Linked DNA regions of Homo sapiens. The protein of the gene in region 2 purifies or fractionates together with the protein of the main gene of each other region. This does not show direct contact. Each region holds a gene or a part of one and is shown on either strand. Other genes may lie near its edges.

What was found.
Region 1: the proteins of SEC16A (region 2) and CLTB purify together in Homo sapiens (affinity purification with mass spectrometry; 2 studies listed by BioGRID and IntAct, with this or other methods). This does not show direct contact.
Region 3: the proteins of SEC16A (region 2) and CSNK1A1 purify together in Homo sapiens (affinity purification with mass spectrometry; 5 studies listed by BioGRID and IntAct, with this or other methods). This does not show direct contact.
Region 4: the proteins of SEC16A (region 2) and SEC23B purify together in Homo sapiens (affinity purification with mass spectrometry; 3 studies listed by BioGRID and IntAct, with this or other methods). This does not show direct contact.

What each region holds. Positions count from the first base shown.
Region 1 is NC_000005.10:176,392,540-176,399,564, forward strand, and holds part of CLTB (clathrin light chain B), read right to left. Parts: intron 5,509-7,025; coding exon 5,391-5,508; intron 5,180-5,390; coding exon 5,068-5,179; intron 3,994-5,067; coding exon 3,940-3,993; intron 407-3,939; coding exon 235-406; 3' UTR 1-234. UniProt on the Homo sapiens protein: Clathrin is the major protein of the polyhedral coat of coated pits and vesicles.
Region 2 is NC_000009.12:136,459,016-136,466,040, forward strand, and holds part of SEC16A (protein transport protein Sec16A), read right to left. Parts: coding exon 6,947-7,025; intron 5,548-6,946; coding exon 5,405-5,547; intron 4,726-5,404; coding exon 4,664-4,725; intron 4,587-4,663; coding exon 4,448-4,586; intron 4,118-4,447; coding exon 3,872-4,117; intron 2,260-3,871; coding exon 2,162-2,259; intron 1,109-2,161; coding exon 1,027-1,108; intron 860-1,026; coding exon 742-859; intron 541-741; coding exon 429-540; intron 225-428; coding exon 119-224; intron 1-118. UniProt on the Homo sapiens protein: Acts as a molecular scaffold that plays a key role in the organization of the endoplasmic reticulum exit sites (ERES), also known as transitional endoplasmic reticulum (tER).
Region 3 is NC_000005.10:149,499,426-149,506,450, forward strand, and holds part of CSNK1A1 (casein kinase I isoform alpha), read right to left. Parts: intron 6,171-7,025; coding exon 6,022-6,170; intron 1-6,021.
Region 4 is NC_000020.11:18,504,004-18,510,952, reverse strand, and holds the start of SEC23B (protein transport protein Sec23B), read right to left. Parts: upstream 3,014-6,949; 5' UTR 2,981-3,013; exon of another isoform or gene 2,656-2,980; intron 132-2,655; 5' UTR 118-131; coding exon 1-117. UniProt on the Homo sapiens protein: Component of the coat protein complex II (COPII) which promotes the formation of transport vesicles from the endoplasmic reticulum (ER).

The DNA.
Region 1 (7,025 bases), on a different chromosome or scaffold from region 2:
AGGAGGGACAGTCACAATTGAGTAGACTGAGAGGAGGCGTGAGGGGCTGGACCAGAGGGCCAGGAGGGAGCGAGGCGTGATGGGGTGAGGGCCCCCCTCCCAGCGCCTGGAGATGGGGAGGAGTGGAATAGGCTGTGGGTAGCAGCTGCTGCGAGTCTCCACCCCGACCAAAGCAGCTGCTCCTCCTGTGCCCAGGCCCAGCCCATGCTCTGTGGCCATGCACCTAGCAGGCACCTAGCGGGACAGTGGCGTCTGCTTCAGGGACATGAGCACCGAGCGCAGGCGGGACACATCTTTGCACTGCTTGCTGCTCTTGGGGTTGAAGTCACATAGCTGGGCCACCTTCTCCCACTCTGTGCCTGGGGTCTCCTCCTTGGATTCCTTCACGAAAGCCTCCTCGGATGCCCTGCGGGTGGAGATAGGACGGGCTTTTATAGCAGTCTGCTTTCCCCCAGCCTTGCCCTTGAGCAAGGCTGCTTTGCCCAGCCTACTCTGGGGCACTGTGTCCTCCCCAGCCTTGTGCCCCCCTGACTTCAGAGGAGGGCAGCCTTGGCGCAGGAGGAAGCCTAGCTTGGTCCTGCCTCAGGACCTTGGCACTTGCTATCACCTCTTCCTGGAACACGCTTCTCCCAGACCTGTTCCTGGCTTGCTGCTTCTTGTCATTCAGGTCTCAGTGCGGGCCTCACCTCCTCAGAAAGTCTTCCCAGCCTAGGCACCCTCTGTTCATTACTTCCCCATCGGGAGTTCCCAACCTGAGGTTCCTGACACCTAAAGACCCTTGGAGGTCCTAGGACGACCTAATGCAGGACCTTAGCTATTTCACCATTTCCAAAAACTTGGCAGAAGTAGGACACTGACTAACCATCTAACAGAAGCACCTAGTTCAGCATTGCCTGAATGTTCTGTGTGAGGATTCTCCAGAAAGACTGTGGTCAAATACCTATGGAAAACCCAGCTAAAGAGGATCTTTACAGCAAGACTTTCAAAGCCTTTCATGTGCTGTGTGCGTCGTGACCCTCCAAGGTGTGTATGTGATGGAATCCACCACATCCCAAGCGTCTTTCACCACAGAGCCCTTTGTAGCCCAGAACCACCACTGTCTCTGAGGAGCCACAGCCTGGGGCATGAATGCTCCACTGGAGTCTGCTTTTGGTTGGAATCAAGTTAGGATGAAAACTGGCGGTCCTTCATCAGAAGTTCTGGTTGACAGTCACAGAAGCCACTGACTAAGGGACAGTGGGGAAACAAGTAAATACAGTCTAGTGGACAAAATCTACACGTGGGACTCACTAACAGAAAGACAATAAGGGATTCTTAGGTGAGGAGAGCTGGGTCTATGTCCTGTTTGGCCAGCGAGGGTCGCTCACAAGTCCCTGGAAGCCCCCTCTCCATCTCAAGCAGGACCAGTTCTGCCGATGCCAGACATGACTGATGGCAGGAGCGCTCCATGGAAGAGCTGACCCCGGATCAGGTGACCTGGCCCCTCTCTAGGGATGCTGGCTGTATGCTCATTTCCTAGCCTGTAAAATGAGGATCATAGCTCTGCCCTACCAACTATTTCACTGGACTGAGAATTCAATGAGGTAGCAAGCAGGTCTGGAAAAAAGGAAAGTGCTGCGTGGAGCTGGGTGGCAAGTGGGGATGAGGGGAGCTATCCTCGGAGCTGTCCCTTCAGGGTCCAGAGGCTCCCCTCTGTCCTTGCAGCTCAAAGCGTCCATGGTCCAATGGCATCAGCATGACGACAGAGCCTGTCAGAAATGCAGACCCTTGGGCCTCCCCACCGTCCTGCTGAATCAGAATCAGGGTTTTCACGAGACCCCCTGGTAATTCATAGGCATGTGAAAGTTTGAGCCTGGGCGCAGTGGCTCACTCCTGTAATCCCAGCACTTTGGGAGGCAGAGGCGGGTGGATCACTTGAGGTCAGGAGTTCGAGACCTGCCTGGCCAACATGGTGAAACCCCATCTCTACTAAAAATACAAAAAATTAGCTGGGTGTGGCCAGGCGCGGTGGCTCATGCCTGTAATCCCAGCACTTTGGGAGGCCAAGGTGGGCGGATCACGAGGTCAGATGGAGAGCATCCTGGCTAACACGGTGAAACCCCGTCTCTACTAAAAAATACACAAAATTAGCCGGGCATGGTGGCGGGCACCTGTAGTCCCAGCTACTCAGGAGGCCGAGGCAGAAGAATTGCTTGAGCCCAGGAGGCGGAGGTTGCAGTGAGCTGAGATCATGCCACTGCACTCCAGCCTGGGTGACAGAGCAAGACTCCGTCTTAAAAAAAAAAAAAAGTTTGAGAAGCCCTGGTCTATACTCTCTCTTCAGGGCTCTCCTGGGTGCTCTCTGGGCCATTTCCTCAGGCTCAACAGAAGCATCGAGCCCCCTGTGGTATTCCACAGCACCCATGCCCATCTGACATCCCCATCCCTTGCTGGAAGCCTCCTGTGGCTCCCCACTGCCTTCTGGATCAAGTCTGAGCTCAGCCTTGGCACAACAGGCGCTTTGCAACCAGCCCCAAGCCAACCACCTCCCAGCCTCAGCTCCCACCCATCCCCACCATCCCCACCATCCCCACCATCCCAGCCTGTAGAGCTTCAGCCACTGCAGCCAGCTGGGCCTTTTCTCTCTGGATGCCTTGGCCCCAGCTGCTCCTCCCACCTTCTCTTCCCACCCTCCCTATCCAGCAAACTCCTTCTCACACTTTAAGGTCAGCTGAAGGTCTTGCATCTCTGAAGCCTGCCCAGGCTCCCCAGGCAGAGAGTGGCTTCCAGAGCTCACTGTGTCCTTCCACAAGGCCCTTATCATAACACACTCCAGACCATGAGCACGGTGAGGGGGGCGGCCTGTGGGTGTCTTACCAATCTGGCACAAGGCGAGTGCCAAAGAGTACTAAATGAGGGAGAGTGGAAGGAAGCAGACGAAGGCTCTGGTGTGCTCTGTGCCCTGTGAGAGGAGGCTTAGCCTCGACACATGACGGGCTGCCAGGGCACACCTAGAGTGAAGAACAGCAAGTACCTTCTCTTCAGCTCCACAATCCCCACCACCACCCTCCAGGATGTCTCTACCAACTAACTGACGTCGGCACGAGATATAACCTGTTTGCCAACCCTGGTCTTGATTACTCATCACACCAAGTAGACCCCAAACCTGAAACATGTGAGGGGGCCTGTGGTGGTCTGGGCAGGGGCTGATGGCCAAAGTCAGTGCACTGGGGCAGGAGGAAGAGATGGATGTCACAAAGGAGCAGCTCTTGTCCTTTACATGCCTCCAGCATCCCATGCTCAGTGTCTGTTTTGTTGAATAAAAGACCCCTTCAGCTGGGTGTGGTGGCTCATGCCTGTAATCCCAGCACTTTGGGAGGCCGAGGTGGGTGGATCACCTGAGGTCAGGAGTTCGAGACCAGCCTGGCCGACATGGTGAAACCCCGTCTCTACTAAAAATACAAAAGTTAGCCGGGCACGGTTGCATGTGCCTATAATCTCAGCTACTCGGGAGGCTGAGGCAGGAGAATCGCTTGAACCCAGGAGGTGGAGGTCGCAGTGAGCCGAGATCGCAGCACTGCACTCCATCCTGAGCAGCAAGAGCGAAACTCCATCTCAAAAAACAAAAAACCCTTCACCCCACACACCCACCAAGAGACATCACAGAGGGAGGGAGTTGGGGTGCTCTGCCATTTGCCCCTCCCACATGGGAATAAGTGGCAAGCACATTCCTTTCTCTGCCTTTATCCTGCAAGGCTCTGATTTAGCCAAGCAGCCTCCACTTCACTGGAGGGAGGGAGGTGGTTGCTGCCTGCACCCACCAGGGCATTTGCCTCCTGTTCTGACCATTGCTCCGAGCCCAGCCACACTCATTTATATCCCACAAGCAGGAAACTCAAGAAACTGTGGTGGCCATTCCCTCTCTAGCTCCCCCAACAGAGAAGCAAAACAGACACGTACACGTAGCCGATGATATCAGCATCTGGCTGCTGGTAGAATGCTTTGTCAGCGATCCTTGAGGGAAAGGTTGAGGGAAGGGGTTAGGTGGGGGAAGGCAGATGGCAAGACAGACAGGCAGGCAGAAGGTTAGAGAGAGAGAGAGAGACAGCATTAGTACCTCCAGTGGGAGAAATGTTAGGAAGCATAGTTCTGGAAGGCTCAGCAACGACCCACAGCCCCAAACAGGAGAATGGGGACCTTCACCCTGGCCCCAGCACCTTCTCTAAAATTCATCCCTGATCATGTTACTCCTGTTCAAACACCTTCAGTGGCTCCCCACTGCCCATGTCACTGCCCAACTCATCAGCCAAGGCCCTTACAGTGTGAGTCCACAGGTTCCTGCCTTCTCTCCCACCGCTCCCTGGCCCCCTGTTGCCTAATACATCACATTTTTTTCTTCGTACCCAGGTCTAGAATGCCCCCCTACCTCCTGCCCTTTTTTCCCTTTTTTCCTCCTAGTCATCTTCCAAAGCCCAAGTCCCAAGACACAGAGGTCTCTCCCTGACCTGTTTCCTTGCTTCCATGGCCTTCGTGCAGAGGGCCCTACTGTATTTGAGCTTAGTTGAACATGTGTGTTTTTCTCCTCTGCGCCCTTTGAGGACATAAGGCTGGGTCCTCCTTATCTCCATCTCCTCCGTGCCTACCCCAGAGCCTGGCATGCAGCAGTTCCCTAGACAGAAGGGTAGCTTCCCAGAACAGGCCTTTCCCTTCCTGGAAGACCTTGTACCGTGAAGGACAGAGCCTCAAAGGCAGGGAGCACTGGGCAGTGTTCAGTCATGTCCCCACAGCCCCTCTCATGTCCCCATAGCCCCTCTCATGTCCCCACAGCCCCTCTCATGTCCCCACAGCTCCCTCTCATGTCCCCACAGCTCCCTCTCATGTCCCCACAGCCCCTCTCATGTCCCCACAGCTCCCTCATGTCCCCACAGCCCGTCTCATGTCCCCACGGCCCCCTCATGTCCCCACAGCTCCCTCATGTCCCCACCCCTTCATGTCCCCATGGCCCCCTCATGTCCCCACGGCCCCCTCATGTCCCCACAGCCCCCCTCATGTCCCCATGGCCCCCTCATGTCCCTACAGCCCTCTCACCGGTTGTTGATCTTGTTCTTCTCTACTTGTTCACTCTGGCGCTGGTTCCACTCCTCCAGGTCCTTCTTGGCCTTCTCCCGCCATTCCTGTTCCGTGACCTTAGATGCAGCATCTAGGACCCCACAAGAGAATGAGTGGCTGCTTTCCAGCTGGGATGCACAGGCCCGGCCGCGCTCCTCCCCTGGCCCCTGCCAGGCAGCCACAGGGCCGCACCGGCCCAGTCCCACATTAAGGCATGCAGCATCCCATGCACTCCGAGGACTCCCCACACTCCACCCCACACACAGCCCACCCAGCCAACCCCGCCTCAGCCCCGCCCTCACCCAGCTCTTGCAGCCGTTTCCTCTGCTCCTCTCGCCACTTGCGGATGCTCTCAGGCTCCTGGGTCAGCCTGTCAGCCTGGGCAATGGCTGCGTAGCCATCAGCAGGACCGTTGGCCTCCTAGAACACAAACACGCAGCAGTCTATCCAGCCAGCACACCTGCCCCGCTGTCTCTGCTGCCCCTGCTGGGGACCCACTCATGTCTGGATAACTCAGCCTCAAACAACCTCATACCCACTGTCTCTGGTGACTACACCTATCTTTGCACTTGCTGTTCCCTCTGCCAGCAACACTCCGCCACCTGTGTGACTGCGGGCAAGTTACTCACCCTCTCTGTGCCTGATCATTGCCTCTGGCCCAGTTATAGGTTTTGATACCCCCAAAGCAGAAGACTCAAGAAAGCGTGTGCCAGCCACTTTCTTTGTCATAAAATGGGCTAAATAACAGTATGCACTCTGATGGGAGGACATAAGGATGAAATGAGTTAAAAATTATAAAGAATGTCGGGCGCAGTGGCTCACACCTGTAATCCCAACACTTTGGGAGGCCGAGGCGGCAAATCACCTGAGGTTGGGAGTTCAAGACCAGCCTGACCAACATGGAGAAATCCCGACTCTACTAAAAATACAAAAAATTAGCCAGGCGTGGTGGTGCATGCCTGTAATCCCAGCTACTCCGGAGGCTGAGGCAGGAGAATCACTTGAACCCGGGAGGCAGAGGTTGCAGTGAGCCGAGATCACACCATTGCACTCCAGCCTGGGCAACAAGAGCAAAACCCCGTCTCAAAAAATAAACAAATAAAAATAAAAAATAAAAATACTGCTTGGCACAGTGAGTCCCTTGTGTTACCGTCATTAAAATCACTCTCTATTGTGGTTGTATTAACTCCTAACACTTAGTCCAAAAAGACCTCAAGACCTCACTTTTTTTTTGAGATGGAGTGTCCCTCTGTTTCCCAGGCTGGAGTGCAATGGTGCAATGTTGGTTCACTGCAACCTCTGCCTCCCAGGTTCAAGCGATTTTCCTACCTCAGCCTCCTGAGTAGCTGGGATTACAGGCACACGTCACGACACCCGGCTAATTTTTTGTAGTTTTAGTAGAGACGGGGTTTCTCCATGTTGGTCAGGCTGATCTCGAACTCCCGACCTCAGGTGATCCACCGGCCTCGGCCTCCCCAAGTGCTGGGATTACAGGCTTGAGCCACCGTGACCAGCCCAAAAGGACCTTACTTTATAATGTGTTTGTCTGTCTCTGCCATCAGAATGTCATCTCTGTCCTTTTCACTGCTATGTCCCCAGAGCCCAGCACAGTGCCTGGCCCAGCAGATGCTCAGTAGATGTTTGTTGAGTAGAGAAGCATCCCTGAGATATGCAGCATGATCATAGCTCAGATCACACCATGGGAAAGAACTTGGACTCTGCAGCCAGGCTGTCTCGGTTCAGATGCCACCTCTGATACTATGAAATGTTTGTAAGGCCTGGGAGAAATTGCTTAACCTTGCCTGACTTTTGTTTTCTCATTTGAAAAATGGGGCTGGGCATGGTAGCTCATGCCTATAATCCCAGCACTTCGGGAGGCCAAGGCAGGAGGATCACTTGAGGCCAGGAGTTTAAGACCAGCCTGGGCAACACAGCAA
Region 2 (7,025 bases):
CCAAAAAACTCACATCATTTTTTTCGATACCAATTCAAACAATCTAAGTAGCCAAAAGCTTGTTAGCACTGAGTGCCTGCCCAGCCATGACAGCTGCAGGCTGGCAGCACCTGCTTACCTGGAAACTAGGCAGGGGGCAGGTCTCGGCACCCAGGGACTGGGCGTACTCATAGGCTTCCGTCCTCTGGATTGCTTCGTTGGTTGCGAACTTTAAGAATGGCAAACTGTAGAGGAAGTGAATTATTTTGATTTGGAAAAAATGGCCAATTATTGGCATAGTCAACCTTGGAGCAAATCATCCAGAAGTGTGTCCCACCACGTGACAAATAAAGACATGATTCTGGCCATTTCTGAATTCACTAAAGGAGAAGGATTTTGTTTTACTTTGAAAGGAAAACTTACAGGACTACACTGACTTGGTTCTTTACCTGTGATTGGATCCGATTAAGACAAGCTTTGTAGTTTTCTTCGTGTAAACACCAAATCCCGCCTGGGCCATGAGGTAGCAGAAGTGGGCCGCATCCAAGAGGCCCCTTGAAGCTGCGGAGAGACGACACGACACACGGCGGGGGCTCAGCGACCGGGAGCGCTTGCAGAAGTCAAGGACGCGCACAGAAGGCACCAGAGACGCCAGCCGGACCGAGAAGGCCGGGTTCTGGTGATTTCTGCCAACGCCACAGACAACCGGGCCTTCGGCGCTCCATCCGCGACACCCAATGCCCATCTCCACCCCTGACCTACCCAGAGTGTCGCCCATGGTAGCCATCGTCCTGGACTCGACGTCCATGTTGTTGTTCAAGTTGGACAAGACCATGGCGAGGTGCGGCCTCCAATCTCCCCATTTCTCGTCTCCACAGCACTAACATGAGGAAAAACAAAACGAAGCCTCATCCCCGGAAGCCAGCGCCATTTCAATTCCACACAGCTGGGCTCACCAGGCACCTCACGGCCTGTGACAGCGTCACCCACGAGCAAACTCCACACAGGCAGTGGAGCCTGTGCAAGCCACCAGGCAGTGCCACTCACCGTGGACGCGGCAGGCATCCGTCCGGACATGAGCTGGTAGACTGTCTGCAGAGGGTCGTTGATTGGGAGGCTGTTAGCAAACCTAGGCAGACATAAACACAGAAAGACCCCATGCTGGCTCAGCTAAAAGAAAAAAGCCGGCCGGACATGATGGCTCACGCCTGTAATCCCAGCACTTTGGGAGGCCAAAGTGGGCGGATCACCTGAGGTCAGAAGTTAAGAGACTAACATGGAGAAACCCCATCTCTACTAAAAATACAAAAATTAGCCGGGTGTGGTGGTGCACACCTATAATCCCAGCTACTCAGGAGACTGAGGCAGGAGAATCGCTTGAACCCAGGAGGCAGAGGTTGCAGTGAGCTGGGATCGTGCCACTGCACTCTAGCCTGGGTGACAGAGCAAGACTCTGTCTCAAAAAAATAAATAAATAAAATAGTAATAAAATAAATTTTTTAAAAAATCAGCCCTAAGCCCTCTGATGTAATGATTAGACTTATATTTCACTTAGGCAAAGTACACACATCTCAATATTTTATTTTTCTTTCTTATCTCAATATTAAAAAAAAAAAAAAAGCTGTAAAAGATAAGGCCAGGTATGGTGGCTCACGCCTGTAATCCCAGCACTTTCAGAAGGCCAAGGCGGGCAGATCCCTTGAGGCTAGGAGTTTTGAGACCGGCCTGGCCAACATGGCAAAACCCACCTCTACTAAAAATACAAAAAATTAGCTGGGTGTGGTGGTGGGTGCCTGTGGTCTCAACTACTTGGGAGGCCAAGGCGTGAGGATCACTTGAACCTGGGAGGCAGGGGTTGCGGTGAGCTGAGATCGCGCCCCTGCACTTCAGCCTGGGCAACAGAGCAAAACTCAAAATTTAAAAAAAGCTATAAAAGATGAAGACTGAGGAATTCACTGAGATTTTACATGAAGTACTAAAAACCATGCAGTTAATTAAAAACTTTTTAAGCTCTCCACAACACGACCCAAGGAAGCCTCGAGGCCAAGGAAGCCCGAGTTCGTGTGGGAGCACAGCACAGTCAAGTGAGATCCGCCTGCCGCCTGCCCCCAGGGTGCGGACGCCGCGTGCTACAGGGAGCCAGCAGGGCTCGCCACTGGACCAGGCCACTGTGGGACTGTACCTGGTCATGACTCGGGCGTGTGTCCGGCTGTCCATCTTACTTGCAAGTAGCAGAGCGTGACCCCACAGGCCATTCTTCATTGCAGACTCCAAAGCATCCTGCAAAAGGCATTTCAGGGACCTTGGTGGGTTATCGGCGGCGCTCACGTGACATGAGTCAAGACAGGCCATGTGTCCTCACGCAGCAGCAGATACACAAACAACCCAAAGGCCTCAAAAACACACTTATTCACCATTTGGAGACTAAAGACACGTAGCGATTCATTATTTTCCTGAGTTTCAAAGTCCCTGTGGTAGTGGGTATTTGTAGATATTTGCTGCTTTTATCCATTTTCAGCATAAAACACAAGCACGCTAATCACAAACAGGGCTAATCACGCAGCGCTGCCCACCACGCCGCCCCATCCACTGGGAAACACGCTCGAGTCAACTCCCCAGTTCTAACAGGAGGCCTCCGCGAATATCCTGTCAACACGGAGAGTGACTCCAGTAAGGCAGCCTCCCCTTTCACCAAAATCATCCAGGGCATAATTTAGAACTTCTGGCTGGGAGGCAAAAACGTTACAGTAGAGAAAGATGTTAATAAAAGCTAACAGGTTACATGACTTCAATCAGTTATAAAACATCCATAATAGACTCATACTGATCAGGCCGGGCGCGGTGGCTCATGCCTATAATCCCAGCACTTTGGGAGGCCAAGGTGGGCGGATTGCTTGAGCCCAGGAATTCGAGACCAGCCTGGCAACATGGTGAAACCCCGTCTCTACAAAAAAAAAAAAAAAGTTAGCCAGGCGTGGTGGCATGCAGCTGTAGTCCCAGCTACTCAGGAGGCTGAGATGGGAGGATCACTTGAACCCAGGAGGTCGAGGCCACATTAAGCTGTGATCACGCCACTGCACTCCAGCCTGGGCAAGAGTGAGACCCTGTCTCAAAAAAAATTAAAAATAAAAAAATAAAAATACTGGTCAAATATGCCCTTTCTGAGTTTATCATGATATAAAAGGACAGAAAACTCTCAGCCTATCCCATGTCTCTGCTGTTCAGGGCCACACATGCTTCTGAGACTGGCCTCTCTCCTGCTTAGCACATCCAAAGCAAACATCATGCACCCTAGACAGCCCCTCCTGTGCACATAGTGTCACTGCTGCAGTCACTATGGACCCCCCAACCCCACTGTCCCAGAGCAGGCTCCTGTCTCAGGCCCCCCACCTGCCCCAGTCCCCACGCTGCTGTGACCCCAGTCACTGGACGCTACACGCACTGGCTGCTCTCTTGCCCATGGCCTTTCCATGCACTGCGCCTCTGACAGGTTCAGTGTGCCCTCCCAACTCCCAATGACTTCTGGGCTGTGGACTCGAGTCTGACTTTGTGAGAATGCCACAACTTGTGTCATGCACATTTCATCCGAGATTTGGCACACACAGCAGGGGCACGGCCTGTGCTCAACATGTGCATTTATCGAATAACTGAAAATTTAATCTGCAGGTCTCCAACACTGGAAACAGTTAGAAGGAAACCAACATTAACACCTCCAGAAGGATGGCATACAAGAGTCAGGCATTGTTCAGGAAACAGCAAGACCCGAAGCCCCACACTGCAGCGCGGATGCTCCCAAGAGGGGGCCACGTCCCTCCCTGAAGGCTGCAACCCCGCACCAGGCCCGACCCAGTGGACATGTGCAGGCGCCAGGTGCCATGATGAGGAGGCGCACCTTCTTACGGCCATACAGCAACAGCTCCCTGAACCTCTCGGTCTCTCTCTCGAGCGAGCTGGCGGCAGCCGCCGGACCACCAGTGAGGAAAGAGAGCTGGGCCTCACCAGACTCCTCCTCTTCCACCTGCTCCACTGCCTCATTCGTGAAATCAATCAGGTTTGCTTCATTGGGCGACTTCCCAGGAAGCCACACTGTTCTGTGGTCTCGTAACAGAAGCTCCGCAATGTCGGTCCCTACCACGGTCTGTTTGGGTCAACAGGAACAGGAAGGAGAACAACGGCTCTCAGGTGAGGACGCGTTGGACCACCACAGGCACAAAGCCCCACCCTGGACACAGCCAGACCCACAACTACCCGAAAGGCTGGCAAGGCTGGGCTGAAACCTCATCCCATCCCAACCGCACGTTCCCTCTCCCTCCCTACCCAGCCACTACAGTGTGCTTCCTAAGGGGGCCCTCGAGGCTCCCATAGCTGGCCACGCGGATCCCGCCCTGCTCCTTCGGGAGGCTGAGCATTCCCAAGACGAAATGAAGACCAGCAAGAAGAAACACTCTAGAAGTAGAAAGAAACATACCCCATTTTGTCTGCATAAGAGAACAATAAAATTCCAAAGAAGACTTGCAGACTCTTTGTCAATTAAGTTTTCATTCTGCAAACATTTCATAGCTTTGTTCTGTGCAAAATTAATGACATCCACCTTATGGGTGTCGTCTCTGCAGAAAGAACACACAGTGAGCAGTGATGTCTGCAAGGCCGGGCTCACAAAGAAATGCCTCAACAAGGAACATACTTGGCCAGGGGTCCCGGGAACGCCCGCATCTCCTCCTGCTCAGACGTGTGCTGCAGCAAGGCCTACGAGGAGAGGGCCGTGGGTCAGTGGCAGCCAGTGCGCAGCCACCCTGCTGGCAGGCCGGCCAACCCAGGCACGGATGCTGCCCGTGAGAGGAGAGGATGGCATGGCCCACCTGCCCCGCCCCACAGCAGGTGAAGGCTCTGTCGAGGCTGTTACATGGAACATGGCCTGTGTGGACCACAGCCATGATTTCAAACTTTATTTTAAGTAGTGAAATCCATTTTCTCTCCCCAAATACTGAGGCAGAACCCCAATACATGTGACAGAAGCCTGCAGAAGCTGCAGGAAGAGGCGCATGCCAGCCCCCGTCACCTCGGCAGCGCCGTGCACGTCCACCCCACCCGCCCCCCTCACCTGGGCAGCACCGGGCCCACCCACTGCATCTATCATTGAAAAGCACCAATAAAGCAAACATCCCCAAAACGAGGACAGAAAATGCATATACAATCAAACCACGTTGAACACCCAAGGCAGACGCTTACAATACTGACTTCTAGGAGGAAAAATATATGATCAAATAGAAGAAAAACCCTACAAATTGAAAATTCACAGGAATAAACATTTTCCAAGGACGTATGTCCAGAGACAAGGTCTGACAATTGAAGATGACAAACTGCAAAGCAGAGAGTTCCCCAGGGCAGCAGAGCAGTGACGCCACGCTTCTGCGTGTGCCATTACCTCCATGCTGTGGACCTCCACCAAGGCCGGCTGTCCTTCTGAAGGCAGATTGGGAATCACTTTGATAAGCTGACCGCCAGGGCCAAACCTGGCACAGACATGAGGCACTGAAAATTTTTCAGGAGAAGTTGGTCTTGATGAAACTGCATTTAAAATAAATTGAAAAAGAAACAATCAGCTTGTCACTGATGCTTCTGAGCCTAGATTTTCAATGTGCTCACACAGCTTAAATCACAGGTTAGATTTATCACGACAGACTTCCAACTCAAAAGTCGGTAATTGTTTAATATCATACTTAAAAGTAGAACTTCAGCATACGTCAGGAAAAGAAAAATGTCTGAATCATTAAGCATGAAAGCTGTTCCCTTGTACACTGAGAAAGCTCCCGCAACACCCTCATGAGCCGCCCTGAGGCTCCTGCCACGGTGCGTAATCCTCCCAGGCCTGGCCCACTCCCGAGCTCTTCCATTTTCACAAAATCAAATTCAGACTGCGATGACCACACAGCACCCAGCAAAAAGGACAGCAAAACACCTCAAGCAAAAAAGAAAATAAGGAGCCAGGCATAGTGGTGCATGCCTGTAATCCCAGCACTTTGAAAGGATCCAAGGCAGGAGGGCCACCTGAACCCAGGAGACAGAGACCATGACCGTGCCACTGCACTCCAGCCTGGGTGACAGAGTGAGACTCTGTCTCTTAAAAAAAAAGAAATGAAAAAATGTTAACTGAAACAATACTTTAAGAAAGTAAGGCCGGGCACAGTGACTCACACTCTAATCCAAGCATTTTGGGAGACCGAGGAGGATGGATCACTTGAGGTCAGGAGTTTGAGACCAGCCTGGCCAACATGGCAAAACCCCATCTCTACTAAAAATACAAAAATTAGCTGTGCATGGTGGCAAACACCTGTAATCTCAACTACTCAGGAGGCTGAGGCAGGAGAATCGTTTGAACCCGAGATGCAGAAGTTGCAGTGAGCCAAGATCACATCACTGCACTCCAGCCTGGGAGACAGAGTGAGACTCCATCTCAAAAAAACCAAAAAACAAACAAACAAAAAAACTCAGCCTACCATTAAATTCTGTAACTTTATATCTTTACGTATATTTCTGCAATTTGCCAAGAAAAAGCATTTGAGCATCCTGGAAGGGAACTCTGACTGACACGCGGGACAACTGCAGGAGCGGAGTCTCCAAGGGGAATGAGCAGCTCCCTCCTGCACGCCTGCTGAGCCACGGGGTCTGCGATGGGGATGTGATCAGGGGCTGCCCAGAGCCTGGATATGAGCTGTCCTCAGAGTCACACTTTAAAACGCATGTCGGGGCAGGCAGGGCAGCTCTCAGGCCTTAAACCAAACTGCAATCGAAGAGACAGCATCGGCCCGTCCTGACACACCCTGCTTCTCGGAAGGACGGATTGGGTCAGAGCCAGGCCAGGACATCACAATTCCAATCCCAGCCCTGACTCCCGTGTTCAGATGCCAGGCTGGGTGGCCGCCCCAGTGGGGTTAGCCGGTATCCCTCTGTCCTGCTGAGCACACACCTTGCTCCATGGCAGGCCAGACGGTGTCGGCAGGGTAGCCATACTCTGGGAAGCCGGGGCCACTGCTGAAATTGCTGCG
Region 3 (7,025 bases), on a different chromosome or scaffold from region 2:
AGGATATTCTATCCCTGCCCGCCACCCAATCTGAAATCTAAAATGTATGCTCTGGCCCAGACGAGGTGGCTCACATCTATAATGCTAACACTTTGGGAGGCTGAGGCAGGAAGATCACTTAAAGCCAGGAGTTCCAAATAAACCTGGGCAACATAGTGAGACTTTGTCTATTAAAAAAATAAACAAAAGATATGCTTTTTTTTTTTTGAGATGGGGTCTTGCTGTTATGTTGCCCAGGCTGGACTTAAAACTCCTGGGCTCAGGAGATCCTACCACCTCAGCCTCCCCACAAAGTGTGTATCTGTTCTTATTCGTAAATTAATTTCAACAGTTTTCGACTTTTTAAATAGAACCAGAAACTAGTTCAAAGGGATATTTACGTAGCAGTAAGGCTTGTAAGTTTGTGATGGGCTTTTGATATTTAGGATCCCTTCAAGCTACAAGACAACTTTTTAAAAGTTATTTTGAATATATTAATTATGCTATGTCATTTATACTAACTTTTCCTATAACATGGTTGTGGGGTTTTTTTTCTTTTTTTCTTTTTTTTTTTTTTTTTTTGAGACGGAGTCTCGCTCTGTCACCCAGGCTGGAGTACAATGGCGCGATCTCCGCCCACTACAAGCTCCGTCTCCTGGGTTCACGCCATTCTCCTGCCTCAGCCTCTCAAGTAGCTGGGACTACAGGCACCCGCCACTACGCCCAGCTAATTTTTTTTTTTTTTTTTTTTGAGATGGAGTCTTGCTCTGTCGCCCAGGCTGGAGTGCAGTGGCGCGATCTTGGCTCACTGCAAGCTCCGCCTCCTGGGTTCACGCCATTCTCCTGCCTCAGCCTCCCAAGTAGCTGGGACTATAGGCGCCCGCCACCACGCCCGGCTAATTTTTTGTATTTTTAGTACAGACGGGGTTTCACCATGTTAGCCAAGATGGTCTGGATATCCTGACCTTGTGATCCGCCCGCCTCGGCCTCCCAAACTGCTGGGATTACAGGCATGAGCCACCGCGCCCGGCCCCAGCTACTTTTTTGTATTTTTAGTAAAGACAGGGTTTCACTGTGTCAGCCAGGATGGTCTCAATCTCCTGACCTCACGATCTGCCCGCCTCAGCCTCCCAAAGTGCTGGGATTACAGAAGCGAGCCACCGCACCCGGCCTTTTTTTTTCTTTTCTTTTTAAAATTATTTAAAATAGCGATGAGGTCTCCCTATGTTGTCCGGATGGTTCTCAAAATCCTGAGATCAAGTGATCTTCCCATCTAGCCTCAAAAATGCTGGGATTATAGGAGTGAGCCACAGTGCCTGGCTGCTTGTGTGGTTCTGTTTGTTGCACAGAATTAAGCTTGGAGAATTTTAAATCAGATTGGCAGTATCTAAAGTTAAAGAATAATTAAAAAAAAAAAACCTGTAATAACTCTTCCTTCCCTATAGAAACTAAAAGAGTATTTAAAGTTGGGAAAGATAAATGACAATTTTAAGTATAGGAGGTATACACTATTCCTAAACTGCATTAAAAAACAGACTGAATTGTTTTGTCTTCCTTATAACAGAATTCATTCTGCTACACATTTCTGACGTTCTGGAGTTTTAAAATACCTGTTTATAATTGATTCTTTCCCCAGCTGGTAGATGGTCTGCATTCAACACCACTGAGTCATAGCAACGCTGTATTCTTCTAGGTCTTCTAACAGTTGTGCTATCATCCAGATGATCTAACAAGTTGCAGAATTTGAAGGTCCAGCAGTCTTGGAGACATGGACTCCAGATGACCACAAACCAACTCTTGCACTTTCATCCGCATTTCCTGTTGGGTTATTTAGATCTTTCCAGCTTTACTGTCCACAGTAAAAAAAAAAGCTGACAAAAATTCAAGATTTCAGCAAGAAGATGCGGTTCCCTGGTACTTCTTAGAATTGAGTGTATTCAGAGCAGTGTGTTCAGACTGTCCAGGTATTTCAAAATCTTCCCCTGTGATGTGGGTGTGCTGCTGAGTGACCAGCACATTCCTAGCAGCAATTGGTGAACTCAGAAAAAGTCAAACTAGACATAAACGGTAGATGCAGCCCAGTAAAACTGGAAGGTAATTCAAGGAAGACTGTGGACATGGTAGGTCAATATGATAGAAAAATAATATTTGTAATCCCCTCTGAATGTCAATACTTTGAGAGCTGTCTATATTATTATGATAAAACTCTGCTTAGTAACTATGGTTAGGGTAGTAAACAGATGGGTTAAGATGATGAGAGTACAGAATAGTAGAATTATCCAAGAATCCACCTTTGGGTTCACTACCTTCTGAAATTCTCCCCCACCTCTGCCTGCCCTCAATTAAAGAAACACTGAACTTCATTAGATTTTGAATGTCCTAAAAATATTTCATTTTCCTTTACTTATTTTTAATATCTTGAAAAATACTTTTTTGATAATCACATATAGTCAAAGGGAGTGAAATAAATTTCGAAGTGTGTTGGGTGTGAATCTTATGTATTTTTCTTGGGAACATGAATAAAAACAGTAATTATAATCTTGTAGTAATTGAACATTAAAAACTAGTATAGATAATAAGTGGCATAAAGAGAAGTCTTTTGATGGATATTGGAATGGAGTATTTGAAAAGATCTAAAGAATATAAGGAAGGCAGAAGTCTGCCTATTATTTAATAGGCCCACATTAGCTAGATAAGCCAGACTTAAAGAATCTTTAAACATTCTTATTAAGTTATTAAAACAACACCATTTTTACTGAAGAAATATCAGATATATTTTTCAAAAATTACCATATAAAACATTAGTAAATGCTACCATTTTGGGGATTTTCCTACATTAGAGATTTACTTGCTTAAAATACACTTATGAAACTTAGTTCAATAATACTAAATCCTCTGAAAATTTAACTCTGTGAAGAGTAATATAAAAAGCACCTTCTAAAAATTCCTTGTTGTGACACAGGGTCTCATCTGTTGCCCAGGCTGGAGTGCAGTGGCATGATCACAGCTCTCATTGCAGCCTCAACCTCCAGGGCTCAGGTGATACTCCCACCTCAGCCTCCCAACACAGCTGGGATCACAGGCACTCACTACTGCGCCTGGCGCTTTTTTTTTTTGGGGGGGGGGGGGTTGGGGACGATGTTGGAGGGAGCTGGGACAGGGTCTTACTATGTGGCCCAGGCAAGTCTAGAACTCCTAGGGTCAAGCAATTCTCCCACCTCAGCCTCCCAAATGTGTTGGAATAACAGGCATGAGCCACTGCGCCTGTCCTAAAGTTTTTAACAAGAAAACCCCAGTAGGATGTTTTCATCATTATTAAAACGATTTATTATTGGGATCAATGAATCATTGAGCTGTATGAGTTCCTTTTTTTTTTTTTTTTGAGACAGAGTCTCACTCTGTCACCCAGGCTGGAGTGCAGCGGCACAATCTTGGCTCACTGCAACCTCCACCTCCCAGGTTCAAGCAATTCTCCTGCCTCAGCCTCCCAAATAGCTGGGACCATAGGTGCACGCCACCACACCTGGCTAATTTTTGTATTTTTTGTAGAGATGGGTTTCCACCATGTTGGCCAGACTCTCGAACTCCTGGCCTCAAGTGATCTGCTTGCCTCAGCCTCTCAAAGTGCTGGGATAACAGGCGTGAGCCACTGCACCCAGCTGAGTTATTCCTTAAATAAAGAACCACTATAGTGGACCTTAAGAGACTATGCTTTTAAATGCCCTTGTTACTTAGAGACTGGAAGCAGGAATAACATAGAGCAATTGTTTTCAAACTCCAGAATTCCTAGGAGATTTCTTAAAGGATAACTTGCTGGGCTGGGGGTAGAAGTTAGGGGAATATGTTCCTCATGCTTATTTCATGCCTAAGGCCCGAAGGCCAGCTACATTTTCATGGTTTATGAGAGTTTCATGTAAGATTTGTCTTGAGCACAAAGTTTTGTATTAAAAAAGAAAAACAGATGTTTTCAAGATGTCAAAGAGCAAAAAGAAGTCTGTGTTCTGTGAAATGGCACTTTTCAGTAGCAATACAGATGTACTGCCTTGGAAGTGTATTTCTAAAAAGCAGTCAATGACATGTGATGTGTTTTATGAAAAGCCTAATTTTTCAAGTCCATGTTTATGTGATAATTTGTATGACCATTGTCTCTAATGTCACTATAAAATTTTTAAAAGATTTTAAGTTGCTTTTACAAAAAATAGCTACAATACAAAATAAGGATTAAACAAGTTTAATTACAGTTCTTTCCCCCGCCCCAATGAAACTAACTCAGTGGATCCAACTTCTCATCTTTAAGACATGGATAGGGCAGGACACAAATTCTGCTTGTTTATTGAATAAGAGACACACAGTAAACTAACAAAGAAACTAACTTAAAATAAGGTAATTCTTTCTGAAATCTGCTGAATGCCTGAAGTAAAATGTTCTAGGTCAGAAGAGATTTCAATCTAATTTTAGTTATAGAAACTGCAACTTGTGATGATCCTATTATCCCAGCTAGCTTTCGGCAAAATTGGTTTCATTTTGTGAGAAAAAGCAAATATACTATAGGTTGTCAGGTGTAACAAGTCCTTGGGTTAGAGACTCTGTTTGGTCTTACCTAAAATGGTAGGACTGTTTTTCAGTGACATTAGCTACATAACACATTATGAACTTCTTGGCACTATGATTAGTTATACGATGATTAAAACACTCAAAAGGAGCAACTATCCCAACTGAGATGCAGAGGCAGAGCACTGTGTGAACATTAGGGTTTGCTATCCTGAGTTTACATGTCACCATCTGAAAAACCCAACGACAATAAACCTTCAACTTTGAATCCTTCCCAAATACAAAAACATGGAATAGAAGCATCTCAACTTCATTCCTAACAGATGAGCTGCTGGGATGAGGATGACATCAGTTAATAATATTTCTTGAAAAGTATCTTCAGATTAGAATCTATTTTTAAATTATAAAATAGTTTAAATACAACACTAAAAATGTGAAGCAAAGATTAATCTATAAAGGCCAAGTTCAGACTAGGGCAGTATTCAGAAATTTAAAAATTAGAAACCAAGAGCCAAATCTTACTTGCCCACTACTTCCAGAAAGTAAGCAGGTATCAGGAGGTAAGCCCCAGAAATGGGAAAAGAAAGACAAAACATGAAAATGGGAGTTAAACTGTATAGCAACAGTGTGCCCTAACAGTTCTACTCCTTACAGGCAGTAAGAGTGCCAAAGAAAAGTAGAAAGGAAATAAGACTAGCGGTTTCAATGGCATTTGCCCCAGTTACCTTCAATTTGCAAGGCCTGGCTGCAGACTTCAATTCCACATTAAACCCTGGGAGCCTGATATTTGCAACATTGTGAAAAATCAAGCCAAAAACAAAGAAATCGTTTTGAAATTAAGATCATACGTAAACTGCAAATAAAAGAATTATTTTTGTGACTAGAAAAGATGTGCTGAGCTTTGCATTTATTTGAGCATTTAAGAGAGAAAATGAGATGCTCTGCAACTGAGAAGATAGACACTTTGGGGGTAATGCCAAACTCACCTCTTGAAATTACAACATGTTCACAATTTTCCATTTTAAATGCTAAAGCATTAACATGCAAAATAAAAAATCTTAACATTGTTAGTCTGAAATAAAGTCAAAATATGGCTAACCAAATTCATTATTAGAAATCAACAAGTGTTAGGTCTAGGATTTTGGATTGATTGATTATATTATATTCCCAACACCAAATTTTTGGAAAGGGGGTTAATGAATGAGTAAAAAAGATGCAGTTGTTAAAAAAATGACCCAAAATCCCAAGAGAAATGATATAAATATACACACATATATGTATATACAAATACATATACATATATATGAACAAGGACATTTGGGTTTAAAGTTAGTAGTCAAATTTTCCAAGGACGTCTTTTTTTTTTTAACGCAGAGCCAAATTTTTATGTATTTTAAAACCACCTCCTTGATCTAACACTGTTAGAAATGAATTACCCAATTTTGTATTCAATTTTTTCCCTGTAACGTCACTTGGTTCTTGGCTACTAACCTTTCATGTTACTCTTGGTTTTGTCAGTTTGCTTGCCTGTGGGGGTTTGGGCCTGCTGACCCTGCCCACTGGAAGAGGCTGCCTGCTGTGCTGCTTTCTGCTTTAACATTGTCCAATCAAATGTGTAGTCATATTGATGGTTCAGGGTCCTGGAACACATAAAATATTTTATGTTAATCCTTTAATAACAGAGTCCAGTTATATAACCTACTAACTTTTTAAGACAGTGACAGCATTTCTTTACACAACGAATATTTCCTCAAGTGTGGCAGCTTCTAAAATATTTCTTATTATAGATGAAAAAGGCAGCATGAAAACTGAAACATGAAATCAAGCTGTCAGTTATCTAGGGGAATACTCATAAGAGGAGGTACTTCCTAAAAACAAGTAAGAGTAAATATTCAACTGGAAGTTTGGGAATAAGATGTCTGACTGGTACCTGGGGAAGACACTTTTCTGGGGTTAAAAGATTACCTGAATTCTCTCTTTTTTTTTTTGAGACCATGTTTTGCTCTTGTTGCCCAGGCTGGAGTGCAGTGGTGCAATCTCGGCTCACTGCAACCTCCGTCTCGCAGGTTCAAGCAATTCTCCTGCCTCGGCCTCCTGAGTAGCTGGGATTACAGGCGCCTGCCACCATACCCAGCTAATTTTTGTATTTGTAGCAGAGACGGGGTTTCACCATGTTGGCCAGGCTGGTCTCGAGCTCCTGGCCTCAGGTGATCCACCCCCATCGGCCTCCCAAAGTGCTAGGATTATAGGTGTGAGCCATTGCACCTGGCAGATTACTTGAATTCTTTGTTTTTCTCTTTTGAGACAGAGCCTCATTGTCACCCAGGTTGGAGTGCACTGGGGGGATCTCAGCTGACTGCAACCTCCGCTTCCCAGGTTCAAGAGATTCTCCTGCCTCAGCCTCCCGAGTCGCTGGGATTAAAGGTGAGCACCACCTCACCCGGCTAATTTTTGTATTTTTAGTAAAGATGGGGCTTCACCATGTCGGGCAGGCT
Region 4 (6,949 bases), on a different chromosome or scaffold from region 2:
AGCCAGGGGTACAACCATTCTTGTAGCCTCCAGCCGGCTGGAAGGCCACACGTTCCAACTAAAACGCACACCATCCCGTTCTTCATTCTGCTGGATGAACTCCAGGTATGTCGCCATAGTCTAAAAGGGAACTGAAGATAAAACTTTAATTACCTTAATGGTATGTGAAATTCTGAACTAAATGTCAAAAAAAGAAGATGGGTCATGTAACACAGTGTTTCTCTTTTTTTCCCATCTCAGCTCACTGCAGCCTCCACCTCCCGGGTTCAAGCGATTCTCCTGCCACAGCCTCCCAAGTAGCTGGGATTACAAGCCTGTGCCACCAAGCCCGGCTAATTTTTTGTATTTTTAGTAGAGGCAGGGTTTCACCATGTTGGCCAGGCTGGTCTCAAACTCCTGACCTCAGGTGATCCACCCGCCTTGGCCTTCCAAAGTGCTGGGATTACAGGCGTGACCCACTGTACCCGGCCCAACTAACACAGTGTTTCTTAAATACTTGGGAAGAACCTGTTGCTGTAGAATGACAGTATTTCTTTTCCATCTGATACCCAAAAGTCAGTTAACCGCACAGTTATCATTGATCACTGCTCCTTTCTCACCTCTCCTTTCAAGCACTTAAAAATAAATCAAAGGAGTGGGAGGTTTACAATCACCTGATCATCTCCAAACTACATGTAGTTAAACACTACTACTTCAAACCTCCTCACAGATCACACGTCCTATCAGTCAAGCCAATTTCAGCCCCTTGCTCAAGGGTAAGTCTTGAACCCTGTTTCGGCATCCAACTATCTTCCTCTCTAATCTCCTTCCTTTCTTCCTCTATTAAATTTTACATTCCAAGTGATTTTTTTTTCAGTAGCGGGGGGGTGCTCATTCCCTTCCGCACTTTGTTAACTTTGGAGAAAAGAGCTGGATACTGATCTTCAAGTTTGGTTCATAATGGGAACCAGTTTTGAGCTAAATTATTTCTACTTGGTATTACCAAAATTACTATTATGCTGAGTCTCACCAGAACCTCTTTCCTCACCACGGTTGCTTATGTTCATGCCTTGACAGGCTGTGGTCAAGGCCAGGTGTGGTGGCTCACACCTATACTCGCAGCACTTTGGGAGGCTGAGATGGGCGGATCACGAGGTCAGGAGTTCAAGACCAGCCTGGCCAACACAGTGAAACTCCGTCTCTACTAAAAATACAAAAATTAGCCAGGTGTGGTGGCACGTGCCCATAGTCCCAGCTACTCAGGAGGTTGAGGCAGGAGAATCGTCTGAACTCGGGAGGCAGAGATTGCAGTGAGGCGAGACAATGCCATTGCACAGCCTGGGCGACAGAGCCAGACTCTGTTTCAAAAAAAAAATGAAGACTGTGGTCAGTAAAACTGTCCTACAGGCTAAACTCTCAAACCCAGATGATCCCAACTTCATTGAGTATTTATACATCCTGTTCATATCCTAAAATCTAGGGTAACACACAACTCAGCTATTGGGGTTCAAGGGAACAAGCCCCTCAAGAAAAGTAGTAAAAAGGCAAATTAAAGAGTCTATCAAATTAAAGTGGCCTCTCGCGCCCACTTCCTGAATATGGATAACAACTGTCTGTTATTTTGGGAAGTACCATACTGTAAATAATTTTGATTAAGGCAATAATATTGCATGGCTAGAAAAGCAAATGAATTACTCTACTACATAAAGCCCAGAACACAAGAATTCCAATGTTTGCTCCAACTGAAACTCTAAGAAATCTGTTTATTTCTGGCAACGGCAAGAACCTGAAGCACTGTGTGCACAGGAAGCACTCTGGAGCTTCATGGGAAGCAAAGGGATAACTAAAGTCGGAATGAAAGCAAGTTCTATCACAACTCTCAGCAAGTATGTCAGCAGATTTCATTAAATAACCGTCTCTCTCTCAAAACGTTCTTTATTAAAAGGCACTGGCGGCCGGGCGCGGTGGCTCACGCCTGTAATCCCAGCACTTTGGGCGACCGAGGCCGGTGGATGACCTGAGGTCAGGAATTCAAGACCAGCCTGGCCAACATGGCAAAACCCCGTCTCTACTAAAAATACAAAAATTAGCTGGGCGTGGTGGCAGGTGCCTGTAATCCCAGCTACTCGGGAGGCTGCGGCAGGGAGGACTGCTTGACCTTGGGAGGCATTGGTTGCAGTGAGCCGAGATCACGCCACTGCACTCCAGCCTGGGCGACAGAGCGAGACTCCATCTCAAAAAAAAAAAAAAAAAAAAAGAAGCTACTGCCTCCATCTAATGGTTTCCAAGCATGTACAGCCTAAGACCTGCTCCCTCCTTTTCCTACTGCCTGTTTCCCTCACCCTTCTAGGGTCTGGATTCTTAGCAGTGGACACATAATCCAAGGGGACTATAGAAGGTCCACTAATCATCTGAAGTTATGCGCATGAGGGAATATGCCGTTTTTCTAGGGAGATGGGTCCATAGCTTTTACCAAAGTATCGGGGAAGGTATCTGAAGAGGTAAATAACTGAAAGTATGAATTAGTGAATGAATGAAAGGCCTGGAAAGATAACAGGAGAATATGCCAAAAAATCTGAACCACCCTTATCGCGCCAACTCGTAACTTCTCAGGACACAGTGACCATGTGTATGTAAGAATAAGTGAGGTTTAATCCTTGAAGGGAGTCCAAGGACCTGGGTTCCAGTTCCAGCTGTCATGAAGCAAAAGTCGTTTCACTTGTCTGAGTCTTGAGTTTCTCAACTATAAAACGGGACTTGGGTCCTTCCAGGTGTGCGCACTCCGCAATTCTGGGGAAACTGGAGCCAGAAATCGGTCCCGGCCTGGTGCGGGACGACATCCGCAGGGGACTCCCGGATCATCCATTCCCCCGCTACCCTAAACTGTCAAGAAAAGGCCTCCTCCCAGAAGCCGCTCACCTCGCCCCCGGCAGAAACTCATACCCGTGCCCTCGGCCCTCCGTCACCTATGCGCCCCGCTCACCTGGCCGGAGCCGCTCACCTAGCTAGAGCCGTCCTCACCCACAGCTGCAACAAGCAGGCTCCGGCTCCCACCGCCAAGTCCAGCTCAGCTCTCAACCGATTGGCCAGCGCCCCAGCGCGTCATGCCACGGCGCTGTCCACTGGCCAATCAAAGAGCGCTTCTCCGACGGACTGGAGGAAGCGAGAGACTCAGAGAAGCTCTGCCACCATCTTGGAACAGGGCAAGACAGGTGTATGTCGCACTTCAAAACGAGAGTTCCTCGGAACACGTTTCCCCACCCCTAAACGTTTCTGTTTCAGAAAACCCCGGCGCCTGCCGCACCGTTGCCTAAGCGCAGCCAGCGCTCCTCAGAGGTTCGCCCTGATACAATATGACATCCGCTCGTCTCAGTGGGAAGTCCCGCTGATCGCCTTAGCTACCGGAAAGCGAGAACGATGACGTATGCTCGCGGAACAGGGAGCTGCACTGGTTGGAAGAAACTAAGGCTGCCGGAAGAAGGCATTAGCATGCGGAAGGGGCGGGGCGGGTGGTGAGCGCGGCGGCGCTTACGCACTTGCTGGTTTGGGAGTCGGTCTCTGTGGTTAAGTTTGAAGTACAGAGGTGTGGTGGTGCTTCACGTTACAAGCTCTCCTACCGTCGCTTGCTGTAATGTCTTGGCGCTCTCAGCGGAGGCTGGCACTAGCGCACAGTCCCTGTCATCCTTCTACATGGAGATAAATAATTGAGAACTGTAATATTCAACCATTTTAGGAGAGTAAGCTTAGAAATACATGGAACATAACTTTCTTTTAAAAAATAATTCCAACGTTTAGATTTAGGGGGTACACTGCGTATTTGTTACCTGGCTATGAGGTTTCGAATTCGAATGAGCTGGTCACCCAGATACTGAGCATAGTACCCAAGTTTTTCAGCCCCTCCCTGCCTCCCTCCCCACTCTAGTAGTCCCCAGCGTCTATTAATGTCACCTTTGTGTCCATGTGTGCCCAATGCTTAGCTCCCACTTTCAAGTGAGAACATGTATTTGGTTTTCTGCTTCTGCGTTAATTCTTTTAGGATCATGGCCTCCAGATGCATCCATGTTGCTGCAAAAGGCGCGATAGAACACAACTGTATAAAGCCACCACAACCATTTTTACACACGCTGACAAGTGGCAAACATGAACACATCATTACTGTGACTCAGAGTTGTAGTCTCTGTAGCATATAAAAATAAGCAAAACGATGTAAACATAAAATTATGCAAGAACATATCTAGGCATCCAAGAAGTATCCATTAATTAGCTCAATTTAATACTAAGTTTTAAGTTATCTACAGATCATAGAAATTATTAATAGTTTAAGGCACAAAGAAACAATTACTGTTAAATGTGAGAATGATTCAGTTTTGTTGAACAAATTCACATTTTTCAGGATCTTAAACAATGTAATGTTAATATTAGCTTATCAATAGTAAACTTTTATAAATTTAGGAAGTTCAGATTAATTATTCTCGGTAAGGAAACAAACTCAAAATGTACACATGTATAATACTTAACACTGAGAAAAGACATAGCTGGGATTTTTTTTAACCAAAACTTAATATTATTCGCCAAAGATTTGCCTTGATTATTTGAACCTGGATTCTTTCTGTACTAGCAATTTCTGTAAGAAAGATTGTTATAGGACCATCAGGTTCGATTGTCCATTGTGCGGTAACAGAAAGAATAGGAGTTGCAGCAGATAAAGAGTTCCATAATCAAGTGGCAGCCAAATGAGGAGACAAGAGCAATCCTCAAATCCACCTCCCCAAGAGATTAGAGATGGCATTTTTAAGAAGTCTGGAGGGGCAATGGGCTAAAGTGTGGGGATTTCTGATTGGTCAGGAAGTGAGAGGTGAAGTCATGGGACAGGGAGATGAAGAAACTTCATTCCAGTGTTGTTTCTTGGTGGAGGTCTTTATTTATTTATTTAAAAAAATTTTTTTTTTGTAAAGCAGGGTCTCACTTTGTTGCCCAGGCTAGTCTCAAACTCCGGGCTTCAGGCGATCCTCTCACCTTGGCCTCCCAAAGTGCTAAGATTACAGGCGTGAGCCACTGTGCCCTTCCTGGTGGGGATCCCTAGACAGTTTGGCATCAGCTGTTTTGTGGGAATTCAGGATCTGAAAAATACCTTAAGCAATTCCTGGGTACAAAGAGCTAGTGTCAGAGATTCTGTGGATAGGAGCAATCAGGGAGTAGGTGATCAGTGTGCTGCAAGGCTTTTGGTTAGTTAGCAGCTGCAGGGAAGTGAATTGAAGGGCACCAATGCACCCTGGTCAGTGCCTAACTAACCTGCCTAAAGGCTGGCTTGTAATCTTGTTAACCCTGTCAGGATGGTTTCAGCATTTTTAAGAAATTTTGCATGCATAAGTTTAATTTACTTATTTTCTGGAATTTTAGAAATAATTGATTTACATGTGTTTGTTTCCATAAGTGAATTATAACAGAGCTCCTTTAAGACATGAAATAATATAACTTATTAAAACTTTACAAAGGTAGTAAGATTTTTTTACTCCCACAACAAGAGGGGAAGGCCTTTGTTGATTACAGCCGGGAAGACACATAGACACATAGCATATAGCTTTGGTTCTGCAACTTTGGCCACAGGTCGAAAGTAAATTCAGAAACATAAAAATTCAGTGGACTAGATAACAAAAAGCTGTTCTCCTTCCCAATGGGCATGGAAGTCTTAACTGATTTGAACTCATAAGTAGACAAAAAGGCAAACAAACAAAAAGACTAACAAACCAGATTTTTCATCATCTCTTATCCAAAAGAGAATAGATCTCTAAAAACTATTAATTCACTTAAAGAGATCACCAAATGTTCAGAATGTAAAACCTAGTTCCTAATTTTTTTTTTTTTTTCTGAATGAGGCAATGTATTAACCCAGCATGGTTTGTTCCAATGCTTCTTGTTGGCAGCTGCCACCTGTCCGGCAATTCTGCCCAGATCTCTCTGTCCCTGAGGTGTCAGTTTGCGGCCCCCATCTTGGTCCTTTTCCACCATTTTCAGCCCCTCCAGGGCTTGGAGGACCCGGCGGAGGACACTCTTGAAGCCTCGGCCGAAGTGGCTGGGCATGACGCCGTTTCTCTGACGTCCCCATAGATCTTGGTCATGGAGCCAACCCCAGCGCCACCCTGGAGGTACAGGTGCCGCGCTGTGGAACCGGCTCGTGTGTAGAACCAGTTCTCAACGTAGGGAGGAAGCTCTTTGTGCTTGGCCAGCTTGACGGTGTCCACCCATTCGGGGACTTTCAGCTTCCCGGACTTTTTGAGAAAGGCTGCCAGAGCTCTGACGAAGTCCCGCTGGTTCACGTGGTTTACAGGAACTCCAGGCATCGTGCGGCTTCCGCGCTGCCAGCCAGGGGAAAGGGAGCAACGGGGTTTCCCGCGAGTTCCTAATTGGTGTCGCCATTCATGGGGAAAAATCCGCCAGCTGTGGGCGAATCAGAAACAAAACCCAAAATCAGTAAGGAGGAGAAAGAAACCTAGGGAGAAAGTCAGCAACGCTGTAGTACTATTGCTACTTGGTATTCACTCCCGGAGCCAGGAAAAAATGTGCTTGGGCTTAGCCCCATGGGGTGTTCTTCAGTAATGTGGTTTACCTGGTTCTGTCAGGTGAATCCATTGGGATGTTGGTGAAAGCTTCAAAACTGTTAAAGTGTTTCAAAAGGTAAAATTATGGCCTTCATGCAAATATAAAATGAACATGTGCCAAAGATCTTACTTAACTCATTCATTGATTTTAATTAATCCCTACGACCAGGAGGGATGTTCAGACTGGTTCTAAGGAGAATTTGATTTATAGTGACATATTCTCTATCACACAAAATTGATTTGCATTGCTGTGGACAGGAATAGTTTTCATTGTTGTGGGCAGGGAACATTTGCATTACTATCTTCTATAAGTTAATTTCTATCTCTACAGAGTTGTAAAATAGCATACTCAAAGGCAGAGGTACATCCCT